Linked DNA regions of Homo sapiens. The protein of the gene in region 4 purifies or fractionates together with the protein of the main gene of each other region. This does not show direct contact. Each region holds a gene or a part of one and is shown on either strand. Other genes may lie near its edges. The genes, in order: ENDOD1, EXOG, MRS2 and BZW2.

Region 1 (7,123 bases), on a different chromosome or scaffold from region 4:
AGGGTACACATTGAGCCCTGAGCATCTTTCTGCAGTGGGGATCTTGGCTGGGAGGCAGGGCCTCAGGGAGCAGGCAACAGTGGGGGCAGGTTTGCTGCAGTGCACTCCAGGCCCAGCTGCACCTCACACCTCCTCCTCCCTCCCTCTCTCCCAATACTCTCTGGATCCTGGCTGACTTGACTTGAGGTCGAGCGGGTGGATGTGGGAGGCCAGCCACCTTGCAGGGAAAAGCATCCTGCAGTGCTCAGCCACAGTGACCATTCTGACCTCTCAGCACAGCAGGAACTCAGGCCCCTTGTACTCTTCAGAACCGCTGTACATCTTACCTCTCAAGCTGCCATTTGTAACTATTTCCACCCTCCCTTCCCATCTTCTTTAATCTCCACAGTCCCCTTCCTCATTATCTCACCCAGGGTCTCCATGTTACCTGGTTCCCTGTACTTCTTTCTGTCAAACTATGCTCCTTTACGACTCACTCCTTCCCTAGCTGCATAAATGGCTCTGCCTCCCTAAGCCTTCCTTGGTGGCTCCTCCCCACCTGATCCCTCCCTTCCATGATTCCTTTTTATTCTGAGCAATTGAGTGCATTCATCTATTTGTATTAGTTTACCTGTTCCAACTTCTTCACGCACAAATCCCTGAATCTGCCATGCCTTTCTCACTCATGATGTTTGTTCCCTCTGCTTGAAATGTCCTCCTCCTTGCCTCCCTTCTAAACTCTGCCTTATCTTTCCACACACAGCAGAAATGTCATCCTGACCCTAAGGCTTGCTTCCATCACCTCAAAGACAGATTAAATCTAATAGGACTTTGTTCACCTTTATTAAATTATGGTTTTTTGCTTAGGTCATAGCAACAGCTAGTACTTAGTACTCATGTGTCACACACCTGAGAACTTTATATATGGTAACTCATTAAATCTTCACACCACCCTATGCTATTATCTCCAATTTAACCTGCCCAAGTTCATAGCTAGTCAGTGGAGCAACTAGGATATGAACCCACATAGCATGGCTCTAATCAGATACTACACCACCTCTCCACCCAGCAAACTCCACCTGCAGATCAGGTAGCCTTTGTTCCAGAACTGCACTCAGATCTCTTGGTCCCAAATATCTGGCACACAGCAGGAGTCACTAAATGTGTTCTGAATTTAACTGAAATTTGTTTAGCATCCATTCCCATGATTTCCTCAGACGTATGTTCTGTCTCCCCAAGCTGTCCATGAGATCAAGGGGAAAGAACTAGCTCATTTGTTTTCTTCGCAGGCACACAATCACAATGCAAGATGAGAGGTGGGGAACACCCTGTGAGCTCTAGGGGTGCAGCTGGTGGAAAACTAATTTTGGATTTAAATGTGTCTTGTGTGTGCAACTGACAACGTCTTTTTCACATGCCTGATCTCGACAAGTGTTATCAACAGTTGAGGTAGGTGGAAGGATGTGAGGAAGATAAGAAAACTAGGTGCAGATTGTTTGAGACCTGGCCAAGACCTCAGAGCTAGAAATATCTGAATGAGATTACAACCCACAGGCTCTGAATAAAGCACCTGAAAGCCAGCCTCCTGTCCACTGGTGTGGTCCTGGGCAGCTGTGGCCGTCAGGAAAGGGAGAGCGTTGGGTCAGTTCTTCCCCCAGCAGCCTGGGCAGGGGTGGGAGGCTGGTGAGAGGGCAAAGGGGAGTCTGGCAGGGTGTTCTAGAGAGGAGGCCAACTGAGGAGAGGTATTAAGAGCAGGCCAGCAGGTTCGGAAGACTCTGAGGGCTTCTCAAGTGTTTGGTCACCTTTACCAGACGGGACAGAACACCATGAGAGGTGACACGATTTCCTAGTGGTATGATAATATAGATATGAGGAGTCAGGAAAAACTGGCTTATCTTTCCATCAGTTGGAGGTAGTCAATGTTTCCCTATCATTTTTAACTACCCCATTGCGTTTCTAAAAATCTGTATCTTTATTTCATTGTTCTAATTCAACACAACCGCAGATCGAATTTACTCAACGCCGTGGTAGAGGAAGGATTTTCAGGCTAGGATGAGCTCTGCAGAAGAGAAGCTTTACTTAGTAGAAAAGGCAGTGAATTTCTAGACAGAGACCTGCCCCATCTTACTAACTGGGTAGTCTTCCATATGTCTCTTCACCCCCTGGGTTTATCTCCTCTTCTGTAAAATGGGGATGAAAATGCCCACCTACCCACCTCCAAATGAGTGCTATGGCAATAAGTTGCACGAAGGCCTGTGAGCGCCCAGCCTAGGCTTTCTGCGGATCTGAACGGTCTCCAGGGTCTCTGTATCAAGCTCTTCACCATTCAGGAATGAAACACTGCGGATGTCTGCTCAGAAATGCAGGGAGAACCTCCTCCCACAGGGGACCTCCCGCCCTGCAGCTCATGAAGTGAAGGCTCGCAGATCGCCAGGCTCTTATTGTAGCTCGACAGGGGCGAGGCAGGCTAACTCCGGGGACGCAACAGGGTGGACCTGGAACCCGGGTTTCTTGGCCCAAGGCACCGAAGGCGTAGGGATTGCTGTTCCCGGCCCGCCCCTCGCGGTAGCTGCAACTGGGGGCATGTCCAGCGGCACGGTCTCCGGCGCCCGCAGCCCGGCTCGGGAACCACTTCGCTTACCTGCGGCTCCACCAGCCATCGCTGCTCGGCGCCGCCGGGCGCAGGGCGCGGGGCGCGGAACGCGGAGTACACGGGGATGCGGTCCCGGGTGCTGTAGAGGGTGGCGAAGCGCTCAGCACCCTCCGCGCGCTGACAGATCTTCACGTGGGAATCGGCCGCCAGCCCCGCAGGCGGGGTCCCGGCGTAGAAGAACTTGTCACATTCGCCAAAGCCGGCTTCCTCCTCGCCCACGAGCCGGCCTTCCAGCAGCCCAGCCAGGGCGAAGAGGCTGCCCAGCGCGAGCCAGCGCGCGGTGCCCATGGCGGCCTCTGCGAGCGCGGCGGGGCCGAGCGGCTGGGCTGCCGCGGCGCGAGCTCTGCAGGCTGGGCGGGGAGCGCACTACGCAGCCGAGCAGGGTAGGGAAGGGAAGTCGCAACCTAGGCGCGGCGCTCTGCGGAGCCGGGCGGGGCGGCCCGGGCGGCGGGGGCGGGTCCGCGTCGGGAGGCCGCGCCTCCCTCCCTGAAGATGGCTGCAGAGGCCCAGGGCCGCGCTCCGCGATGCTGACAACGTACCCTGGGCTGCGCCCGGGACTGGAGACGCGGGTCACCTGCCTCCGCGCCGCCTGGTCTCAGCAGTCCGGGGGACGCGCGCTACCAAGAGTGGAGAATCCGAGTGGGGCGGGCCTAGTCCCGGGGCTGGGAAGAGATAGTCGCATGGACTGGGCGCCAAGAAGCCTGCTGATCGCGCGCGCCCCACGGCCGCCCTGGTGATGCAGAGGGGTGGCGTGAGATGCTCGTGGAGCTGCGGCTGGTTCGGAGTGGATGGGCAGAGTTCCCCTCTGAAATTTCATGAAGATGCGTCTCCCACTCTCCACCGAAGTACTCAACGACCAGCACACGCATACAATTTTGATGGAGTTTTTTGTTTTTTGTTATGTTTTTTTAGCTCACCAGAAACTCAGAGAGTAAAGAAATACTGTTAAAGGAAGTTCCTAAACTAGGCAGACAGTATAACCCTGTGTGGTTTTCTTGGTGCAAGTGTTAGAAACAAAACCGATACCAAGCAAGGAAGGAGGCCAGCCAACGTCATTGGTCAACAGGTTGGCCAATTCTTTCCTTCATTTATCCCTCTGAATGCCTAGGTGCCAGCCTGAGATAGGCACTGGATTACCACAGGGGTAAACAAGAGCAGGGCTCCTGCGGTCACAAAGACAGCCTAGTGGGAAAGTTTGTCATTAACCGAGGAAACATGCTATTAAAGGGATAACTAAAAACTGAACACAGATCTGTGAGACCCTGACAGCTACAGGGGTTCAGGATGTAATCCGGGAAGGTTTGCCTGAAGAAGTGGCATCTGAGCTGAGACCTGGAGGATGACATTAACTAGGCAAGGAGGAAAACCATGTGCTAAGTGGTCTCCCACAGAAGGGAACATGATGTATTGGAGGAATTTAAGGAAGGCTAGTGTGGGTAAAGCGCGGAGAACCGCGTGGGGGATGATGGGAAGTGGGGCTAAAGGAGGAGGCAGGGGTCATATTACTCAGGTTATTATAGGCCAGAGGCCTTCAAACACTTTTTGAGAAGGCCCATAATGAGAAAAGTTTGATGAAATAATTCTTATGCTTATGATTGGCATTGCAATTTCATATTTCTGTTCTACTTCACTTTTTTAAAAAAGTGCTGGTGTTGACCCACTAAATTGTTTCTATGAGCCACTAATGGCTCATGACCTGCAGTTTGGAAAAAATATTGTAAATCATGTTGAGGATTTTCATCTTTTAAAGGTGGTGACTCGATTCTTTTTGCTATCAGGGAAGAGACTGGTAGATTGAAGTGGCACAGAATAAATGGGTGGCTCACACCTGTAACCCCAGCACTTTGGGAGGCTGAGGCAGGCGGATCACCTGAGGTCGGGAGTTTGAGACCAGCCTGGCCAACTTGGTGAAACCCGTCTCTACTAAAAACACAAAAAAATTAGCTGGGTGTGGTGGCGGGCACCTGTAATCCCAGCTGCTTGGGAGGCTGAGGCAGGAGAATCGCTTGAACCCAGGAGGCGGAGGTTGCAGTGAGCCAAAATTGTGCCACTGCATTCCAGCCTGGGCAACAGAGCCAGACTTTGTCTCAAAAAAGAAAAGGAAAAGAAAAGAAAAACACCCCATAATTGCCACAATCCAGATAAGAGATGGTAGCTTGGACCAGGATGGTAGGATGGTGGCAGCAGAGATAGGGTCAAGGCAGCTACCCAGGGCCAGGGCCTGTGCTCATCTTACGATGTCATCTGTTTCCCCAGTGTGCCACTACAGGGACTGAGACCAGAGCCTGTTGATTCTGGCCTAAGCTGGCACAGCCAGTGAGTCCTAAGACAGATTTGAAACAGGTCTCTCTGCTTCCCAAGCCTGGCCTTTTCTTTTAACTCACAGCGCATCTGTAAGGTGAGCCCATAAAGAAGGAAGCTCTTCAAGAGATTATACATTGGAACTTAAGAACAAATTTCTTACAGGTTTTAATTCCGGAAAATGTTGACTATGTTTGGTCCCAGAAATGAAACCAAAGTTTGTATCTTAGTTTTTTTAAAAAAAGGAGGGGACACATTTAGTGTGATGTCACAGAAGAGGCTAGACTTGAAGTCCCCTTTGATCTGGATGATGACCCTGATCATCTGGTACTAGTATCTCAGTCATCTCATCCTTGTAGGCTTCAATCAAGTCCTCCCACAGGGACAATGCTGCTCCTGGGATGCTGGGAGGATTATAGGTTTTACAGGATTTTAAAAATATTTACATTATTTTATAAGGTTGAATATAGGGTTCCCCAATGTTGACTTATGATGTCTACCATAAAGATATATAAACACAGTTGAACAACTAGAAATCCATCCCTCTCTTCTCTGAGTTCTTTAAACATTTATCTGTTATGATACTTATCATGGTAGAGTGTTAATAGTCCCTGTATCTGTCTTCTTTATTAAATCATGTGCTCCTAGGGACAAAGGTGGTTGGTGGATCCCAGTGGCTACCACAAAATCTGGAGTGATTAGATGCCAAATATGATTATGTTGTATTTTAACAAATGCAGAAAGTATAATACAATCATCATTGGCCTTTATGACTAAAGTATTTATAAGACTTTAATTCACTTTCTCAAAATTTCTTGATGCCTGCCCGCCACCTCTGATAAGCATAAATATCTCTGCCACTCAGTCCCTGTGGCAGACTTTAGTTTTTTCCCCAGCCCTCTATCAGTGACTGACACACATATAACACTGAACATTTGTACATCCCACAGCCAGGATGATTTTGTTTATTTTCTTTAGTTTATAGTACAAGACAATAGATTTTTCTTCCATGTGCTTGCCTTCCACAGATAAAATATTACTTTTGCAAATTACAAATGTTCTCACCCCAAGATTCTGGAACAACCTACAAGGTAGGAATGCCTTGATCTAATTAAAACATTTGCTAACTGCTGATTTTAGGGGAAAACTGTCTTTAGCAGCATCTGTATGTGTAAAACATGTAGGTCCATCAATAATTCACTGCTGTCTCTACATTTGGTCACTGACTCTCTTCTCACAGGGAAAGAGGTTTCAAACCAGATCCTCTTAGGTCTCTGCACTCAGACCCAGCCAAAGCTGGGTTCCATAGCCTTCAGCAAAGGCTTGAGGATGAAAAGTAATGGTTGATGTGGAATAAAACATTTGACATGCACTTCTGTGGCTTGGTTGGTTCTGTCCAAAGTTATTTAAAAATATGAGCCCAACTAGACACTTCTTTCCCCTGCCTCACTGCTCTGATGATAATTGCATCTCTACCATCACACCTTTGACCAAGCCATCCTCATTTGTCATGCCCAGTTTTTATCCCGTCATCCCTTCTAATCCACTCTCCAGCTGGGATGACTTCCTAACATAAATCTGATGATGTCACCCTACCCTTACAGCACTTAATCACTCTCCATTTACCTTGGGATGCAGCCTGACATACTAGCTGACTTCCATGACCCCAGAGACCTGGCCTTTCCCTCTCAGGCCTCATCTCTCTCCACTCCCACCTTGCCCACACGCTCAGCTTCTTATATTTCCATGAATGCACAGTGTTCTCTCTTTTGTTTTGTTTTTGAGACAGGGTCTCTCTGTCACCCAGGCTGGAGTGCAATGGTGCAGTCACAACTCACTGCAGCCTCAATGTCATGGGTTCAATTGATCATCTCACCTCACCCTCCTTAGTAGCTGCAGCTACAAGCGTGTGCCACCACATCAGCTAATTTTTGTATTGTTTGTAAAGACAGGGTTTTGCTATATTGCCCAGGCTGGTCTGGAACTCCTGAGCTCAAGCGATCCATCTGCCTTGGCCTTCCAAAGTGCTGGGATTACAGATTTGAGCCACTGAACTCAGCCTGATGCTCTCTCTAGTCTTTGAAACTTTGCATCATAAACTACTTCCCTTGTCCTGGAATTCTCACCACCCATTCTCATCCCTTCACTCATTTCATCTAGCTTTTTTTTTTTTCCCAATAGTCTAGCTGA
Region 2 (6,493 bases), on a different chromosome or scaffold from region 4:
ATTGTATTTTCTAGTTAACTCCCAGTTGACTTCCAATTTTTGCTACAGTCTTGAGTAGAGTTCAGTGCTTCTTGGGAATTTAATAGCAGCAAGGGTTTCCTTTGCAAAATATTTTTATACCTAAATCTTACATGAAAAGGGTTGTTTGCTGACTCACTGATTAACTAGACTTGGTTTATGTTAAGCCTTTGAGTCCTTTGTTACAGACATCATTTGTGCCCAAGTTGCTTTCTCCTCCTGAAACCCCATTGCTGACCTGTAACTAGTCTAATCTTGCTTGATTATACGTTTCCCCCGCCCCCATCCCTCTGTAAAACCATCTTTTGTACCAAATGCCGTTGTATCTTTTGAATGATGTCCACTACAAAATAGCTTTTTACATAGATCTTGTAGATTTTGAAAAATTTTTAACTAACATGTCATTGTATCTTCATAACAATTCTATGAGAGAGGCATTTATAAAATACAAAATAGCAATCCACCCACGGGGATGGCTGTTACGTATTTTGTAAATGAAGAAACAAGAAATGGGTGGACGCGACTTGCAGCTTAGTGGCAAAGCCAGGTTTGACCAGGTCTCTGGGCTTCCAGTCCACCAAACCTCTAGTAGTGTTTAGAAACATTTCTGGAAGTCTCCCAATTTTTCCAAAAGTAGGAAAAATTTATTATGTAGATTGAGTTGTCTTTAAAGAGACAGCTCTAAAATATTTTACGATTGATGTTGTTTTAAAAAATTGTCTTAAATTCAAGGAAGAAACGGTGTGTTTTTCTGAATACCCAACTAGGACCTGTCCCTATATTAGACAGATTAAAGATGTTTGCTTCCTAAGAACAAAGCAGACTGAATCAGAAAAGAGATTAGTGAGTGGCTAAGTTTTTATTTTTCTCCTTAGTTCTAGGGATAGTATTTTACCCCCTTGAAATAGTGTGAGAAGGTCATGGGTAGAAGGATCACACCTGTGATTCCTAATAGGAATTTCTGTTTCCATGAGGTTTCTCAAAAGTAGAATCGAGGTCCTTTAGCAATTGTAAGAGTTTTTAAACACCTATAGAAATGGTACATTTGCATAAAGTAAAGCTGTAGAACTGAAAATGTCCAACGTCTTTACTTTTGGCTGGAATTTTACGAGCCTGATTAGCTCTGCATGGCAGCAATGGGCATGTTAATTATATTTGAAAATTGCCGTTTGTTTGTAGACAAGGAGTCCATGAGGAGAGAAAATCAAGTGAATGTTCTTGAACTGTACTGCAGTGATGGGGAATGTCCACAAGGTGGCGCAAAGACTTTGTTTAACTGCTGGATTCCTAGCTAGCACCTGGAATACTTGAAGCCCCTTTCACCTTCTCCCTCTTTGCAAACTATGGCTCAGCTGCATCTGTGCCCTCAGTTCTGGTCCCCAGCTTCCCCTGAATCCCCTTCGTGCTGTTATTTGGGCTTTGTATTGGTACCTAACCACATTCTACCTGTAGTGAAAGCTGAAGGTCTTGGTTCCCACTCTAGGTGGTAAGTTTCTTGAGTGGAGGCACCAGCTGCATATACTTTAAAGCATATTCTTTTCTGTATTTCCAGCAATGCCAGGCACAGGACCTCTGAGTTGCATTGTTGAATTAACATCTTTTGGTTATTTGTGAGTTAATTGTGGACTTCCATAGGGTTCTCCCTCAGTATATTTTTGGCTTTGAAGAGTATGTTTATCTTCCCAGCTGCATAAATGAATTTTTGGGGTGAAATGGGGATTTTATGTTTGTAGTACATAGTTTCATAGACTTTACACCACACCCCGACCAACCACTTTCAGTAACTTCGAAGACAGTTGGTTATGGAAATCATTCCCGTGCACGGGTCTTCCCTGAAGCTCTGCAATTGGTCTTGGCAGTGGGACCTTCATGTGTGACAGACAGCAGATGGCCATGGAGTTCCCAGGCTGTGTGCCATGTAGGTAGGAGCTTGAAAAAAGCAGAAAAGAAACCTCCTTTGTAGCTGTCGTGTCTCTGTCTTATTTGGGCTCACAAGAAGGAATCTTGCTGCAGGCAGAGCTGTCTGATCAGGAAAGAAAACTGACTCTTACCAGGGAAGGGCCCGGGAGGGGCAGTAATACCAATGAGCATGTTTTAGTTGGATTATGTCAGTTATTGGGGACCATTAAGTAAATAGATGTTGAGTATTTTCTTTTTCAAAAAAGCCTTTTTGTTTTGTTTTGTTTTGTTTTGAGATGGAGTTTCGCTCTTGTTGCCCAGGCTGGAGTGTAGTGTCACAATCTCGGCTAACTGCAACCTCCACCTCCCGGGTTCAAGTGATTCTTTTGCCTCAGCCTCCCGAGTAGCAGGGATTACAGGCATGCGCCACCACGCCCAGCTAATTTTGTATTTTTAGTAGAGATGGGGTTTCTCCATGTTGGTCAGGCTGGTCTCAAACTCCCAACCTCAGGAGATCTGCCTGCCTTGGCCTCCCAAAGTGCTGGGATTACAGGCATGAGCCACCACACCTGGCCCAGATGCCAATTGGAAGGAAATTTGAAAAGGTTTAGTAATAATGTTATTTCATTAATTTCAGCCAAACCACACAACTAATTTATGTTTTCTAGGCCTGACCCTGGCTCTGGCTTCTTCATTGTGTGGATACCTTTCCAAAATGTTTGATATGACAACATATTTAGAAGTTCTTTGATCACAAGCCCAAGGATGTGCAAAACTCAGAGCAAACAGCATTTACATTTATGTAATTTAATTTTAAAAATTAGCCCTAATTGAAGTGATCCTGGAGATGGTAATGTTGACTTGACACCTGGCTGCTTCTCTAAGGGCTATCTGTTTAGTTCCCTAGTGAATTTCATAAACTAAGGCCATGTTTTTATTTCTAGAGCTGGGAGTACCCAAGCCTGCAGTTTTGACCTTTGAATGTTTGGAGCACCAGAAGTTCTGATTATGAGATGAAGAGAAAATGACAGCTTTTCTTGTCTATTAAAAAACCAGGACTCACTCATGGCATTCCTTTGTCCTTTGTCCTACAAACAGAACAGAGACTGTGACCCCTGATCTTTGGGTTGGCATTATTTTATTTTTATTTTTTGAGGTGGAGTCTTGCTCTGTCGGCCAGGCTGGAGTGCAGTGGTGCAATCTCGGCTCACTGCACCCTCTGCCTCCTGGGTTCAAGCAATTCTTCTGCTTCAGCCTCCCAAGTAGCTGGGATTACAGGCGCCTGCCACCACACCCAGCTAATTTTTGTATTTTTTTTTAGTAGAGATGGGGTTTCACCATGTTGGCCAGGCTGGTCTTGAACTCCTGACCTCAAGTGATCTGCCCGCCTTGGCGTCCCAAAGTGCTGGGATTACAGGTATGAGCCACCGTGCCTCACCTGGGGTTATATTATTTTAAAGAATGTGATCAGAATTGACCTGTTAAATACTCTTCTTGTATGTGAATCTCTGAGTCAGTTTATTATTTTTGGCAGTTGAATTTAAATTCATTAGAACAGAGTGGGATGGCTTATAAGTACATTTCAGCAATGCATTAAATAAGTATTTTTCAGAAAAAATTTGCGAACTGTTAGCACAAATTGGCATCACTAATATGGCTGCTTTGTTTTTAGGTGATTGGCGAGGACAACGTGGCAGTCCCCTCACACCTTTATAAGGTAATCCTGGCCCGCAGAAGCTCAGTATCTACCGAACCACTGGCGCTAGGGGCCTTTGTGGTACCCAATGAAGCCATCGGCTTCCAGCCCCAGTTAACTGAATTCCAAGTGAGCCTCCAGGACCTAGAGAAGTTGTCAGGACTGGTGTTTTTTCCTCATTTGGATAGAACTAGTGATATCCGGAATATCTGCTCTGTGGACACCTGTAAGCTCCTGGATTTCCAGGAGTTCACCTTGTACTTGAGTACAAGAAAGATTGAAGGAGCCCGATCAGTGCTCAGACTGGAAAAGATCATGGAAAACTTGAAGAATGCAGAGATTGAACCAGATGATTACTTTATGAGTCGCTATGAGAAGAAGCTAGAAGAACTCAAAGCTAAGGAGCAGTCAGGAACCCAGATAAGAAAGCCATCCTAGTTTTTATCTCAAGATGTGTCATACCGTCTGTAATGAAGCAGGCATGCCCTCTTTAGGCTAACATATTTTAGTGGCTTTGCTTTTTGCTTTTTAAAAAGTTTTTCTCTTTAAGAGATGTGGTCTCGCCGTGTCATCCAGGCTGGAGTGCAGTGGTGGAATCATAGCTCACTATAGCCTCAAACTTCTGGGCTTAAGCAATCCTCCTGCCTCTGCCCCCTGAGCAGCTGGGACTACAGGCACACACCATCACCCTCAGCTACTAGTGGCTTTGCTTTAAAGAAACAGTGGAATCCTAAATTTATGACTAAAAATTCCCCCAAAAGATGAAAGATCTACAATGTTTTTGTCAGTATTATATTTGACTCAGGAACTAATTATTAAGGGAGCTTTGACACCTGCAGATGGAGGGCTGATCTTGTGTCAAGTTAACAGGAAGACTGCCCACAGATGACACTGCATTTGTATCCCTGTGGATGTAGAGTATTGGGAAGGCATTTGTTTAGTTTCATGCCTCCAAACCATGCATTGTCTGTGATGTATCTGCCCAGCCTTCTCAGAACTCAATGTTGTACATTTTTCCCTCTAGGACCTGAATTGGTCTTGGAGGCAGCTTTTAGAAATCCTCTGTGTAGTTCCTGTCCACATGCACTATATATTTGTTTCTTTTTTCTCCTCTCATGAATCTGCTCGTTTCTCTACTTCTGTCTACGTAGAAGCACTCAGCAACTAGTTTCTGCTCATTAAATGTGTTCTATATACTAGGCTCAGTGCTTTACATGTGTTGTCTCACAATGACTCTCTGAGGTAAATACACTATCCCCATTTTACCTGTGAGAAAATTGAGGCTTAGAGAGCTTAGTGTCTTACCTGAGTTTCACTTTTCCAAAGTAGTCATCCACAAAGTATGAGGCAGACAGATCTAAGAGAAGAAAGACAGCTGAGGTAGATTCAAATCTTTTCTGACATGGATGGTGGCTTTTTACTCAGAAATATATACCTATTTCCATGGGTATTTGTGGGCCTGAGGCATGCTTGGCAAGAAGAGTCTGGTTTCTCGTCTGCTATGCAAGCCAAAGGGACTTTAATGTTCTTTGAATTGAACCCTCCTTAGCTCTGTGGAAAGAGACAGTCAGGAATATTTGGGAATTAGACGGCAATACTTTGTGGGGTTTATTAGAGCCCATGCTTGCCTCCAGAGATACAGTTCTTTTAGTGACCAGATACTGCCAAATTGATGTGTTCTTGCTTTCCAGGTGAGCTTTTTGTTCTTAAGATTAAGAAACCTATGAAGGATCTGCAGCCAGGCATGGTGGCTCAGGCCTATAATCTCAGCACTTTGGGAAATCGAGGTGGGTGGATCGCTTGAGCCCAGGAGTTTGAGACCAGCCTGGGCAACATAATGAAACCCTATCTTTACAAAAAAATACAAAAATTAGCTGGGCGTGGTGGTGCACACCTGTAGTCCCAGCTACTCGGGAGGCTGAAATGGGAGGATTGCTTGAGCCTGGCAGGTCAAGGCTGCGATGGGACATGGTCATGCCACTGGACGCCAGCCTGGGCCACAGAGGGAGACCCTGTCTCAAAAAAAGAAAAGAAAAAAGAAAAAGGTCTGCCCACAAAATCACTAGCTTATTATTTGCTTCCTGTGTGCCTGCTTGTCTACCTAGCATAGTAGGCCAAAGGTCCAAAGGCATTTAGCATTCCTAGGGGAAATTGTGGCTGTTTTTCTGAGCCAGATCTCTTGATTTGGGTTTACACGGAGTCCTTTCATGGACTATCCTGAGTATTGTCAGTAAAACGTCTTGGGGCATAAGAACTTGTCTGAATCTGTCATACATACCACTGCTGTCTTTTCCGAGTGGTATTACAAGAAAGATTTTTGTGGTGTGTTTGTTCTAAGAGAAATGCCAAGGCTTTCAGATAAAGATAAGATGATAATGATTGACATTGTTCTGCTCTTTTATTTGGGTAAAAAAGGAAAGTTGAGGGGTCAGAACACAGTAGCCTGATTAGTACCATTCTGTTTTGTCACACTGTTCCCCATTAGCTTGTACCAGTTCTCCTCTTCTCGGGGATGTAGAGCCAAAATGTCACTGTGACCAAACAATCTGTTCAATTTTTTCTCCTCAATGGAGAGGTGATGGTGTGGCCTGGGTGTTTCTCCAGGAGTGTGAGTGGGCAGCTCTGTGGGATAAGTCCTAGGTACCTACTGCCCATCTCTAGAGGCGGGCCCCCAACTCCCTTCCCCTGTTGCTCTGTTCTGCCGACCTGCATTGCCAGCAGCCTTGGAGTTACTTATGCTCTTCTTGCTCGTTCCTCTCCACCTAGATGGTAGAATCTCTTATTTTTAGATCAATGAAGTTTTTTTTTTTTTTTTTTTTTCCACTGGGGCATTCCTGAGTTTATTTGGGGCACACCCGGGTGAGGGCCCTGCCCCTAGAA
Region 3 (6,842 bases), on a different chromosome or scaffold from region 4:
CTAATTTTTTGTATTTTTAGTAGAGATGGGGTTTCACTGTGTTAGCCAGGATGGTCTCAATCTCCTGACCTCATGATCTGCCCACCTCGGCCTCCCAAAGTGTTGGAATTACAGGCGTGAGCCACCACGCCCGGCCGGCACACCTTTTTATCAAGACTTTTTTTTTTTTTGGAAAAAAAAAAAAAGCCTACAAAGAAGTTGCAAGAATATTACAACCAATTCCCATAGAGCTTTCACCTAGAGTCACCTTTGTTAACATTTTGCCCCAACAGCCTTCTTTCTCTAAAAATACGTGTGATACATTATCTTATTCATTCATTTCCCCCCTCATCCCCACCCCCGAACCATTTCAGAGAAAAGTTAGAGATCATGACCTTTCAAAGCATGCATTTTTAAATACTACTCTCTGCTGCCTTCAAAATGCTTCTGCCTGCGTATTATCTTGCAGAACATAGGTTCAAGCCTCTTTATGGCTCTGAATTGTGATTGACCTGTTCTAGTATTAAAAGGGGAGCTGCAGTCATTAGCAAAGGTTCAAGATCATTGTTAAGCAAATCTAGCAGGCACTTAGGTCACTGGCCAGGCACAACAGCCACGACATGTAGCTATGATGATTATAAAGCTCAAAATAAGTAGTATCTTGGCCAACAGTCCAACGAGTTAACTTATGTATGGGAAGCACTTTCTGTACGATTTCCAATGTACTGTACATACTCACCACAGTAAATACTGGGGCTACACTGGCTAAAGTGGCTTGAGAGACGTCAGAGGTTCTAAACCGGTGCACTTCACCTGAAGAATAAATTAAGAGAATTCCTGTGGTCACATGATTGGTTTTCACATAGAGCTAAAATACAACTCTCAAAGTATGTGGAGGCCTTCAGACTATTTTATTATTTTTAAATATTTTTCCTATAAGAAAAGAAGAAATACTCTTCTTAATTTTAACATCTGTTAGTGACTATCTTAGGTTTGGCAGGGAATGATTTTTAAAACTAATGGCTTAGGTGAGGCATTAAAATAACTGATGGATTCCAATCACCCTTTTACCTTTCTAATTATTACTGATATCTCAGAGTTGGATGAACAAATGTGCAACATCGTGTTCTGAGATTTAAGAAAATGTCTGGTCTTCCTTTTCGCATAATTTAAAAGACTCTTCATGCACATTTGGTAGTAGATACATTTTAGAAAACATAGGTCCTAAGTACCACCTGATCTTTCAAGCATTCCAGTTGACTGGCTCATAAATTATGAAACCTATGATTTTACTTCTTTTCTACAGATATCCTTTATAGTGAATACTTATGAAATACCCCCACTGAGCTGAAATGACAAATCTTTATTTTAAAATTGTCTATTTAAAACGTGATTAGACTGAGTCGAAGTGAGCGGTGAAGTATAATCAAGTACATTTAATGACTGACAGAGGACACTGTTTTGTGCTTCCAAAGTAATTACACTGATTCCAGAGACTGTAGAAAAAAAAACCTATTTCTGATCTTTTTTCTACTACATACACGTAATGATTGTTGTAATTTGTTAGTATCTGAAGTTTCATTTCCCTTTTACAAAATACAAATTATCACTATAAGGGTAAGATGAATAAAGGTAAAAGGCATTTGCTGATTACAAATGCCTTTCAATGTTTTAATGTCACAAATTAGAGTGTAACCGGGATTGAGATTGTGAACGTCAATGCTTGTCCTAAAAGTTTCCTCCAACTTGCTGAAACTGGATTCCCAAGCATTATCAATTGAGGGTGCAGAGCATGTAACCCAACTTAGCCTCTCCAATAAGTGGAGAATGAGGTGCTGACGAGGAGTTACTTTGGGAGGCTTTTGAGAGCACAATTGAGAAAACATATTTGAGGACACTGCTATGTTCTTAATAAAGTCATTCATTTCAATACCTTTTATTCCTCAAATATTTGCACTCACATTTGTGAAAATCTTAACTTTTCACCATGCTTCAACATTTGGTGAAAAAATAAACAGCAAATAAGATTTTTTTTTCTCAATCCGATCTCCCTGGCTGTTTACTTATAGAGTACTGTAGTTGAAAGTAAGTCGTTCTCAGAAACAACTCAGTCTTTAGCCTCACTTCTAGGTGCGTCCCCAATCTCCGTGCAACTGGACAACTGTATAAATGTGTCCATAACGAAGAAACAGAAAACAGGGAAGTATTAATTTATACTTATGACTTCCGAACAGATGAAATCCTTGTTTAAAAACACCTCTCGGCCAGGTGTGGTGGCTCACGCCTGTAATCCCAGCGCTTTGCGAGGCTAATGCGTTAGGATGGCTCGAGGCAAGGAGTTTGAGTCCAGCCTGGGCAACATAGTAAGACCCTGTCTCAAAAACAACACAGAAAAAACCTCTTACAAGAGCACTTAAGCGGGTGTTAACTAACGTGATCACGGTCTGTAAACGATTCCTAGGTTGTTCCTATGGTTACATAATCTGCAGCAAGGGCGGTGGAGGAGAAGGCAGAGGGTTGGCCGCTGGGACCCCGGCAGGGCACAGCGCACATAGCAAGGTCGCATTCTGAGCGAGTGGGACGCAGCTCGGCCCGCGGGCCTGTGCAAGCTCACAGGACACGCGGGAGGCCGAGGCCTGCGGAGGGCGCGGAGCAACAGGCGCGCCGCGCCGGACGGCTGGGGCAGCAGTCTAAGGTCACTGCAAGACCAGCGTCCCAAGGCTGTTGCCGGGGAAGGGCAGTACCTGCCACGCGGAGCCGGTCGGGCCCGCAAAGCTGCGCCGCTCGGCTCCTTCCAATCAGGTTGGCTCGGCGGCCGCAGGCAGCAACGGGAGGACCCACAGAGGTCACGTCCAAGGCCAGGGCACACAGCGTCCGCCGGGGAAGTCTCATCGCGCGGGGCAGGAGGCAGGGTAAACTGCGCAGGCATTCCATGGTGCTGGAGCAAGAAGCAGGCAGCAGCCAGACCCCAGACCTTCATGCCGGACGCTGGCTGCTCAGGCCGCAGCTCTGACCTGTCGCTACCGCCCGACCTGCAGACTCTGTGCACCAGGCATGCGCGGGGCGTGCCGCGCCTGCGTGCTACTTCCCCACGCATGCTCGGAAGGTACCTGTGGGCGAGCCTGTTAAGTCCACAGCCAATAGACGTTTGCTTGCCTACCTGTACCTGCACCTGTACCTAAGTGAGGGGGCAGGCGGGCTGGGAGATGGGTGGAGCACGTTTACCTGCACTAAGTGAGCTGTCCAACCTAGGTTCTTGGGCGCTTGGAGTGTCATGGTTTTGTAGTTTGTGGAGAATTTTCATACCTATGAAAATTGCAGTTTGGAAATGAGCAGGTTACCCATTCCCACATCATTTAATTTATATTTAAATTTAACGTGGTGTAGGGAGCAAGAGGGAAAGCTCCTACTTTTGCCCTCTGAAAGTTGCTGGAATGAACTAAGTAGACAGATTAGCAGGAGAAAAAGGCATACAAAATTTGCTTAACGTGCATAGGGAAAAATCACAGAAGAGTGATTACTCAATAACTCAATTAAGGTCCAGATGCTTGTATACCCTTCTTTGTTGAGTAGAGGGAGATAGGTATGAATGGGCCCGAAAGCCAGACAGTGGTTTGCAAATGATTCTCCTTGGACATTCAGTGGGACAGAAGTACAAACAATCGCTTGTGGACAAGCTGTGAAACTTCACTCTGAACAAAAATTGTCCTATTATACAGGTAAAGTTTCCCAGGTAATCTCTTGGAGCTACCCTCAGAAGTATCTATGAAAAGTCTCAGTGTGGCTATGACTTTCAGTTTTTGTCTCTTCTCTGGGTGATTAATCTCTTCTGATTATTTAATGCGATTCCTAAGGAACGGGTTTTAAGACAATTGCATTTCTTTGGAAAAGAGTTTTCTCTGTCAGATAAGGAAATTCCTTATCTGGCTGTGCAGGAAAAGAGAGCCCCTTCAGGTGCTTGGAAAAAGTAAGAGTATCAGAGAGACAAAAGGAAGGGGGAAGGTGAGAGAGAGAGGCCTTGATTTTTAGGCTTCTTTCTGAGACCCTTTTAATTTCCTTTAATTCAAAGACTCAACATGCCACCGGGCGTGGTGCCTCATGCCTGTAATCCAGCACTTTGGGAGCCAAGCACTTTGGGAGGCCAATGTTGTGGACCACTTGAGGTTAGGAGTTCAGGACCAGCCTGGCCAACATGGCAAAACCCGTCTCTACTAAAAATACAAAAATTAGCCGGGTGTGGTTGCAGGTGCCTGTAATCCCAGCTACTTGTAAGGCTGAGGCATAAGAATTGCTGGAATCCAGGAGGTGGAGGTTGCAGCGAGCCCAGATCATGCCATTGCATTCCAGCCTGTACTGCATTCCAGCCTGTACGACAGAGTGAGACTCCCATCTCAAAACAAACAAACCCCAAAGACTCAGCATGCCAAAACATCATATTTTGGGGTATTATGGTTTGAGCCCCAGTAGTGGCAAAAATAATCAACTGTCATATGGAATGATGTCATGTATTAAACTTTTGCTATAAAGAATGAGGAGCACAGACACATAAGATTTCTATTCCATATTTAATAAAATGTAAGATAGCATCAATTTTAAGGTACCATTATTTTATGTACCACCAAGAAAGAAAAAAAAACTGATAAGTTATGCTTTCTAAACATGTAGATTGAAAGACATATCTCAATTCCAGTCTTTAAAATATGAAAAAAGTCTTAGGTTAAATACAGTATGTATGCATATTTTAAAAATATGAGTTAATAAATTTATTGTCCCTTCCACAGTAGTAATACAAGGCAGACACAAGTTCCACAGACTTCCTTTCAATATCTATGTATGGACACAAAGCTAAGGAGACAGAGATAGAAACATTTTATTCTGCAGGGTACTGGGACTGGGGATGGAGTAGGAGGGCAGTGCACAAAGAGAAGCCTTCACAGAAGAGAGGATGTTTGACTTGATAATGTGGGGAAAAGAAAGAGAGATCAGATTGTTACTGTGTCTGTGTAGAAAGAAGTAGACATAAGAGACTCCATTTTGTTCTGTACTAAGAACAATTCTTCTGCCTTGAGATGCTGTTAATCTGTAACCCTACCCCCAACCCTGTGCTCCCTGAAACATGTGCTATGTCACCTCAGAGTTAAATGATTAAGGGCTGTGCAGGATGTGCTTTGTTAAACAAATGCTCGAAGGCAGCATGCTTGTTAAGAGTCATCACCACTCCCTAATCTCAAGTACCCAGAGACACAAAACACTGCAGAAGGTCGCAGGGACCTCTGCCTGGGAAAGCCAGGTATTGTCCAAGGTTTCTCCCCATGTGATAGTCTGAAATATGGCCTCGTGGGAGGGGAAAGACCTGACCGTCCCCCAGCCCGACACCCGTAAAGGGTCTGTGCTGAGGAGGATTAGTGAAAGAGGAAGGAACGCCTCTTTGCATTTGAGATAAGAGTAAGGCATCTGTCTCCTGCTTGTCCCTGGGCAATGGAATGTCTCAGTGTAAAGCCCGATTGTATATTCCATCTACTGAGATAGGGGAAAACCGCCGTAGGGCTGGAGGTGGGACATGCTGGCAGCAATACTGCTCTTTAAGGCATTGAGATGTTTATGTATATGCACATCAAAAGCACAGCACTTTTTTCTTTACCTTGTTTATGATGCAGAGACATTTGTTCACGTGTTTACCTGCTGACCTTCTCTCCACTATCATCCTATTGTCCTGCCACATCCCCCTCTCCAGGAAACACCTGATAATGATCAATAAATACTAGGGGAACTCAGAGGCCGGTGCCGGCGCGGGTCCTCTGTATGCTGAGCGCCAGTCCCCCGGGCCCATTTTTCTTTCTCTATACTTTGTCTGTGTGTCTCTTTCTTTTCCAAGTCTCTCATTCTACCTGATGAGAAATGCCCACAGGTGTGGAGGGGCAGCCCAACCCTTCAGATAATTGAAGGCAAAGAAAAACTTTAATCATTGCTTCCAGGGCGTTGAAGTCTGGAAAATCGCTGAGTATAGAGAACATGGCTGGTAGATTTTTCATTTTACTAAAGCTTTAATGATGAGATAAGTATTTCAAACATATTACATGCCTTCAGAGATGCTTCTTTGAGAAAATATGTGATAACTTTCTCTTTAAAACAAAATTTGCACCCAGCACAATGAGACAGCTCTAAGATAACTTTTGCAAAGTCTAAGGAAAACTCTGGAACCTGTCCAGACGTACAGCCTCGTAATTCGTGGCAAAGATTTTTCTGAGAAGGGTGGGAACCATTGGAGGACTTCGAGCAGAGAGGTAATGAGCAGAGGTAACAATCTGATTTATGTTTAAATGGGTCACTCTTGCTGTGTGGGAAAGAGACTACAGAGAGGCAATTGGAAGCAGAGAGATGGTGATGATGGTTTGGGCTAAGGTGGGGATGGTGGAGAGGGGAAGATGAGTTGGGCTTGGTACCATATATTGAAGGCTGAGTTGACAACATTTGCAGATGGGATATAAGAGAAAGAGAGGCATAGATGTTGCTCCAAAATGTGTATCCCGAACAGCAGGGCCTTGCTGGTGCTATTTACTGAGATAGGGAATTTTGGAAAGGAGCAGTTTTTTTTTTGTTTGTTTTGTTTTTTGTGACGAAGTCTCGCTCTGTCGCCCAGACTGGAGTGCAGTGGTGTGATCTCTGCTCACTGCAAGCTCCGCCTCCCGGGTTCACGCCATTCTCCTGCCTCAGCCTCCCAAGTAGCTGGGACTACAGGCGCCTGACACCACGCCCAGCTAATTTTTTGTATTTTTAGCAGAGATGGGGTTTCACCGTGTTAGCCAGGATGGTCTCGATCTCCTGACCTTGTGATCCACCCGCATTGGCCTCCCAAAGTGCTG
Region 4 (7,029 bases):
ACTGAATGCTGTACTGGGAAAAAATATTTATGTATATATATATATAGTCATTTATATATATACACACATATATATGTATATATACATACACACACACACACATATATATGACTATTGAGACAACCTAAGAAGTTGGAGTATAAAGATAAAATTATGGTATCTATGTTAAAATTTACTGAATTTTTTTTTGCACTGTGGTTCTGTAAGAAAAGTATCTTATTTTTACAGAATAAATACTGAAGAAATAAGAGATAAAGGCAGAAAGTGTATGCAACCTACTCTCAAATGATTAAGAAATAAAACTGATTATGTACACATAGAACCCTGGAGCAATGGCAAACACAGGAAGCCATATGTATTTTAGGGCATGGCATGGTGGCTCCGATCTGTAATCCCAGCACTTTGGGAGGCAAATATCATATGATCTCACTCATGTAGAATCTAAAAAAGTTGGTATCACAGAAGTAGAGAGTAGAATAGTAGTTTCCTGGAGACAGGAGAATAGGAGTGAGGTGGGGATGGGGAAAGATTGGTGAACAGGTACAGAGTTACAGTTAGGAAGAATAAGCTCTAGTGTTCTATTGCACAATAGAGTTATTATAGTTAACAATAATGTATCATATACTACAAAAGAGCTAGAAGAAAGGATTTTGATTGTTCTTACCAGAAAGAAATGATGAGTGTTCAATGTAATGAATATGCTAATCACCCTGATTTAATTATTACACAATGTATATGTATATGGAAACACCACACTGTACCCCACATATGAAAAATTACTATATGTCAGTTAAAAACAAAAATGTTACATAGTAACTTAAGTAATTTAAAAAAACATTTTCCAGCATTTACCCATCAAAGTAATTTCTTCCTTCAATAAAGAAAAACTATGAACTAATAATGCTTCCATTAAACAAAACCCCTTTTAATTAATAGATTTATGAAACTTTTTTTAGAATTTCCTCTGGAGTCTACAGATCATTCTTTTGACTATACTCAATGATGAGAAATTTCCTTGTTTGATAGAGGATTTAATTTTAGAAAGTCGCCAGAGATCATTCAGAGTCTAATCCATTGAAAAAAGTAGGTGGCCACTTTGAAGCTATCTGGTGTGTCCAACCAGGTTTTTATGACAAAATACTGAACAGAAGCAAAAAAGTAGGTGATTAAGCTGAGAAACAACAGCATCTTTATTTGAAAGTGAGAGGTAACCTTTAAAAATCACTGATTATAAGGTCAGCTCATCATGTATATTATAGAATATTTAAGGAAAAATTAGAAAAAATCTATCAGTCTAACTTTCAGTAATGACCACTGTTCACACTTAAACACAGTATAGTATACAGGCTGGGCACGGTGGCTTATGCCTGTAATCCCAGCACTTTGGGAGGCTGAGGCAGGCGGATCACCTGAGGTCAGGAGTTTGAGACAAGCCTGGGCAACATGGTGAAACCGTGTATCCACTAAAAAAAAAAAAAACAATTAGCCAGGCATGGTGTTGCACGCCTGTAACCCCAGCTACTTGGGAGGCTGAGGCATGAGAATCACTTGAACCCTGGAGGCAGAGGTTGCAGTGAGCCAAGATCATGCCACTGTATCACAGCCTGGCTGACAGAGCAAGACTCCGTCTCATAAATAAATAAATATCATCCGTTTTTTTTTGGGGGGGGGGGGTTATATACAGAAAAAAATTAAAATTAAATTCTACCATCTTTTCTCATATTATGCTAAAATACAATTTAAAAATGATTTGCATTTGGACTTGGAGTTATATAACTTGATTCAGTGATATTCTCTGAATCTTTATTTTAAAAGTCATCTGTTCCATTGCATCACTTTAGGAAAAGCAGAAACTCTTATAGAGAAGGAAATGTCCTTGAAATTTGTTAATAATATTATAATTTTAAGCTTAGAAAAAAGCAAGATGGTCTCTATATTATTATTATTACTTTTTGAGACAGAGTCTTACTCTGTCACCCAGGCTGGAGTGTAGTGGCACAATCTCAGCTCACTGCAAACTCTGCCTCCCTTGGATTCTCGTGCCTCAGTCTCCCAAGTAATTAATTTTTGTATTTTTTTTTTTTTTTTTTTTTTTTTTTTGTAGAGATGGGGTTTTGCCATGTTGGCCAGGCTGGTCTCGAACTCCTGGCCTCAAGTGATCTGCCCACCTTGGCCACCCAAAGCGATGGGATTACAGGCATGAGTCACCATGCCCAGCCAGTCTCTATATTATTTTAACTAGTGATTTAAAACTTTAAAGTAATAACACACTGATGGCAAAAACAAAACAAAATCAAACAAACAAAAAACCCCAACACAGTACAGAAGGGTAGTGCTCTTCCCAATCTTTCACTCTTGACCTTATATCCTAGCCCCACTCCATGGAGATGATAATAATTTAAACCCTTTAACATCATCCTATGTAACCTTTTAGAAAATGCCTATGCATTCGAGATTTTCACCTCCACTGAAGACAAAAGTAATATTTATTATTAATGAGTATTCTCATCTCCAATGTTCCTTCCTCCAGAAAAGTGCTTTTTCACTGGAAGATACCTAAATACATGTTGAGCTTTACATAGTAGAGGAGAAAGATGATTTTATATGAGATTTACTTTCCACCTAGAGGAAAGGAGCTATGGACAGCACACACAACACTGGCCTTGCTAACTGAGGTGAGGAGAACCAGGAGATGAAAATCAGCAAGAAGTGGAGTGGCAATGCCAGAGAGCAAGTTAGTTTAAGACAGACACAAAACTGATGGGAGTGTTGGTGACTATTACTCCAGTGGGAAGTCAGAAGACAAGTTATTAAAGTAAAAGAGTGTTGAAGTGTTTGCCTCTCTTCAGAGGATTTTTAATCATGGAAAAGAGGAAAATAAAATCTTCAGAAAAAAAAGAAATAAAAAGAAAAGTAAGGCCTAGACTGGTAGACAGTGAGAGAATTCTGTTTTGGAGCAATTGCTTAAAAATCGTAATAGTGGACCTTCAGGAAGCTCAAAGGTGGTGGTGGGCATGAGTCCAAATATTGGCTCACTTACTAGTTCTCTCAACCAAGAAACTCCCATCCTCCCAGAAGGGGACCTGCCCAAGCCTGTCTAGCAGGTGAAGCTTTATTTGAAGGGCTACACACACACACACACACACACAAAGTTACTTTCCATATGCATGCTTATTACATAATGAGAGCATGAACTGGATAGAAATGCCAAGCCTAGTCTAGGGCACGCTGATGACATGGGACTGGATTCCCCAACACAACTTTACAGAAGTGGACCATACAAAATTGAATTAAAGGAAATAAAAAAGAACTAGTACAGAGCTACAAGCTCTCTGAATCATACATTTTAAAAAGGTTTAAGCCAGGTATGGTGGCTCATGCCTGTAATCCCAGCACTTTGGGAAGCCAAGGCGGGCGAATCACCTGAGGTCAGGTGTTCGAAACCAGCCTGGCCAACATGGTGAAACCCCGTCTGTACTAAAAATACAAAAATTAGCCAGGCATGGTGGCAGGCGCCTGTAATCCCAGCTACTCGGTAGGCTGAGGCAGGAGAATCACTTGAACCCAGGAGACAGAGGTTACAGTCAGCCAGTCAGCCGAGATCACACCATCGCACTCCAGACTGGGCAACAACAGCGAAACTCCGTCTCAAAAGAAAAAGGTTTAAACCTACAGAGAATCATTCATTTATTTGTTTGCCAAATATACCAGGTCTGGTACTAGTCAATAGGGATGCAGCAAGCACTAAATCAGGCAAATTTCATGGAGGTCACTTTCTAGCAGGTGGAGCTTTGTTCCAAGTATTGCACAATCGGGCAGAACAAGTTAGCAAGCACTGATTGTCTCCAGTATGTTTAAAGACAACATATGATGCATTCGAGATGCAGTTGTGTTTATTAACGTTTTAATAATTAAGTGCGTGTTTTTTTACTTTGTAACTTACAAGTGGCATCCACGCGGAATGGAATACTTTGAAAACCATGGATGTAAGCCCAGTCCCTAAGCTAACCTTCAGATAAGGCACTGAGATGTCAAACCACTTGGCTGAGGTCAGGAATTCCATTCTAGCATTGGTAAGACAGTGGAGATCAAAGCAGAACGATCCCTGCCCATCTGGAGCTTATGTACATGGAAGAGTTGGGGCCAGAACCTGATCCACTGTCTCCACTCAGTGCATTTTCCAAGGAGCCAACTAAAGCTGTTGCAATGTCTTAGAGAATTATTTATATGATTCTCGAAGACAGCTTTTTCATTATTTGCCTCATAAATTTTATAGTTTGGAATAAGATGGAGTAGCGCATAAATATTAATTTAAAGTTGAGTTCAGCACTTGGATAAATTGAATTAGCATATGTTACTTCCAAAATACCAAAGAGTTCTCCATAGAGTTCTATTAAGCGGTGGGGGGGAAAAGGCATTTATCTTTAGAGAGAGAATTTAACAATATTGCCTCTTAGGGACATACGAATATTAGAAAATTTATGGCACCATAATTTCTAGCACTATAGGATACAGTTTTTAAATTGTTTCCTGCAGAAGCTCAACTCTAACACAAACACAATCTTCACACTCCCAAATACTAACACCGCATCCTTTTCCTCCAGCCAGCAGTTTCCTCTGCACCGACAACTAGGGGTTCTCTTTCCTGTTTATAATAGTCCCATTCAATTACCTTGTTCACTGAGAAAAACATATAACATTTCTTTTTTCTTCTTAGAAATGACCATAAATCCAGGTTAGTTTGAAAACCATTAAAGTCTTCTGTGTGGATATATAAAAAGGATGACAGTAGAATATCATCCAATAGTAGCTTATGATATATTCTCTACAGTGCTAAACGTTATTATCCCTTATTATTCATCTCTGCCCCAGGGCTTTTCTTGAGATTTATTTAGAAGTCCTCAAAAATAACAGTACACCTGTTATATTTTTTAAAGTTCTCATCTAGCATAAAAATAAGTTGAGATGTAAAAAGAAAATATAATGCTACATCTGACACAAAAAATAATTCTACATCTTAAGTTATTGTTTTCCTACTAAAATATTAATATTTTCAGAATGGAATTAAAGATAGCCAAAGGATTATACTATCTTAAATATTAATACAGGGCATTATTCTTTCTTTTTGTCATTATACTTTTTTCCTTTAATTTTTGAATAAACTTAAAAAACATCAATGGAAACACCTATTGCTAAAAATCAAGAAAGAATAATGAGAACATTATCTTTTTGGCATTTAACCTTAAAGAATGGTTCATTCAATGAGTTATTCAAATCTTTATTTTCAAAATAGATAGTTTACAAATATGACTACCTGAACAATTTTGGCACTCTTCACTTAATACACGCCAAATTTAGAACGGGGCAAATCATTCCACTCGGCACCTAACTGCCCAAAAGATACTTGCTAAAGAGCGCCATGGCCTCAATACACAGAAATGAGTGAGTTAAGAATGAAAAGTATTCTTGTTTATGACCTGCTAAGATTGGTGGATTTCATATTAATTAAATATTCTTGTAAAATCCCAAAGTCTAGGATGACATGTTATAAAGGACATTTAATATATCTAAAACACAATAAAAAATTGTAAAGATCAAAAAATCAGTTTAAAAAATTGCACAAATTAGAAAGTAGGTGTCAGATTAAGTATTCAGCTAAGCAAACACTGAGTAAGAACCTACCAGTCACACCCTGTCCTGGGCCTGCTCCTGATTTTCCTAGACTAATACTTATCCTATCAGTGCTGACATTGCTCGAAACAGTTTTGGTACTCTTTTTTTTTGGAATGCCTTCTGAGTTGGATTATGACGCACAGAAGAACATCAGTATCTCCACTTCATTCACCTCTTGATTTTCTCAGTTAAACTAAATGTATCTGTACCCCTTCTTCAGAATTTTCTTTTCAAAAAAGATGAAGATTAACTACCAGTAAGATATTCATCAATTTGTTCTACAAGCACTGAGTAATGCCACCAACCTTTTACTTTTTGGAGAAGTTAAAATGTGATGTCAAATGTTTATGGAAACGCATTGTTCACAAGACAGTTCTTTGCAGATTTAGGTGTAACTGTTTTAACACTTAAATGAATAATCACATAAGCGAAACTCCAAGTATAGAAAAAAGAACATTTGTATTTATATTACTTTCTTATGTTGTGTTTAAAAAAAAAAGATTTCTTAGAGGCTGTAATACTTCCAAATTTTCTTTTTAAAAACTTCATTATGGAAAATCTCAAATATATCCAAAAGTAGAGAGAACAGTATAATCAAGTGAATATACTCATCACCCATCTTCAACTGTTAACATAGTCAATTTTATCTCATTTATATTCTCATTCAGTCTCTCTTCCTTTCTGTCACAGAATTATATTAAAGCAAATCTCAGCTGTCTTCTCATCCAGTTCTGAAATAATTCTGTTCCTATCTCTAAAAGATAAGTAATCTTTTAAAAATATAACCGTAATCTACTTCCAACTTAAAAAAATCAAAATTTCTTATTATCAAATATCCAGTCAATAAAGATACCTAAGTCTAAGGAAAAAAAGTCAAATGTCAAGACAAACAGTACCCTGAAAGATGTAATACTCAAAAATGCAACAAAAAGGCAGCATTCTCCTAATGTAGAGAGCTGGAAATCAGGGTCTTTAATGGGGAAATCTAAGAATGGCATGCCAAATTTGTAACATGTGCACAAGAACAATTTTTCTTGGTTGATAGCATTCATCAGAATGTCAAGAAGCTTGAGATCCAAAACATTTAAAGACTTTCTGCCTCTGGTTATGATTGTGCGTGCTTAGTGCCACCTCACCTCACATTGCCAGGAAGGATTAGTCAAGTAGGAAAACAAATCCACCTAAAATAACTTAGAAATCAAACTGAATTCAACTCAGCTTGTACTGAGCATACACTAGGTGCAAGACACTGGGTTAAACCTGAGAAACAAAGATAAATTTGACCTAGTTAATGTATACTGTAGAATGAGAAGGGACCAAACAGATTAATAATAACTATAATAGAATGCGATGAGA

Evidence for each region.
Region 1: the proteins of BZW2 (region 4) and ENDOD1 purify together in Homo sapiens (co-immunoprecipitation; 3 studies listed by BioGRID and IntAct, with this or other methods). This does not show direct contact.
Region 2: the proteins of BZW2 (region 4) and EXOG purify together in Homo sapiens (co-immunoprecipitation; 3 studies listed by BioGRID and IntAct, with this or other methods). This does not show direct contact.
Region 3: the proteins of BZW2 (region 4) and MRS2 purify together in Homo sapiens (co-immunoprecipitation; 3 studies listed by BioGRID and IntAct, with this or other methods). This does not show direct contact.

The regions. Positions count from the first base shown.
Region 1 is NC_000011.10:95,085,725-95,092,847, reverse strand, and holds the start of ENDOD1 (endonuclease domain-containing 1 protein precursor), read right to left. Parts: upstream 3,003-7,123; 5' UTR 2,921-3,002; coding exon 2,621-2,920; intron 1-2,620. UniProt on the Homo sapiens protein: May act as a DNase and a RNase. Plays a role in the modulation of innate immune signaling through the cGAS-STING pathway by interacting with RNF26.
Region 2 is NC_000003.12:38,520,312-38,526,804, forward strand, and holds the end of EXOG (nuclease EXOG, mitochondrial isoform 1 precursor), read left to right. Parts: intron 1-2,861; exon of another isoform or gene 2,862-3,334; intron 3,335-3,589; coding exon 3,590-4,051; 3' UTR 4,052-5,992; downstream 5,993-6,493. UniProt on the Homo sapiens protein: Endo/exonuclease with nicking activity towards supercoiled DNA, a preference for single-stranded DNA and 5'-3' exonuclease activity.
Region 3 is NC_000006.12:24,399,118-24,405,959, reverse strand, and holds the start of MRS2 (magnesium transporter MRS2 homolog, mitochondrial isoform b precursor), read right to left. Parts: upstream 3,025-6,842; 5' UTR 2,914-3,024; coding exon 2,724-2,913; intron 793-2,723; coding exon 719-792; intron 1-718. UniProt on the Homo sapiens protein: Magnesium transporter that mediates the influx of magnesium into the mitochondrial matrix and regulates magnesium metabolism. Also permeable to calcium, sodium and potassium ions.
Region 4 is NC_000007.14:16,649,155-16,656,183, reverse strand, and holds part of BZW2 (eIF5-mimic protein 1), read right to left. Parts: intron 1-7,029. UniProt on the Homo sapiens protein: Translation initiation regulator which represses non-AUG initiated translation and repeat-associated non-AUG (RAN) initiated translation by acting as a competitive inhibitor of eukaryotic translation initiation factor 5 (EIF5) function.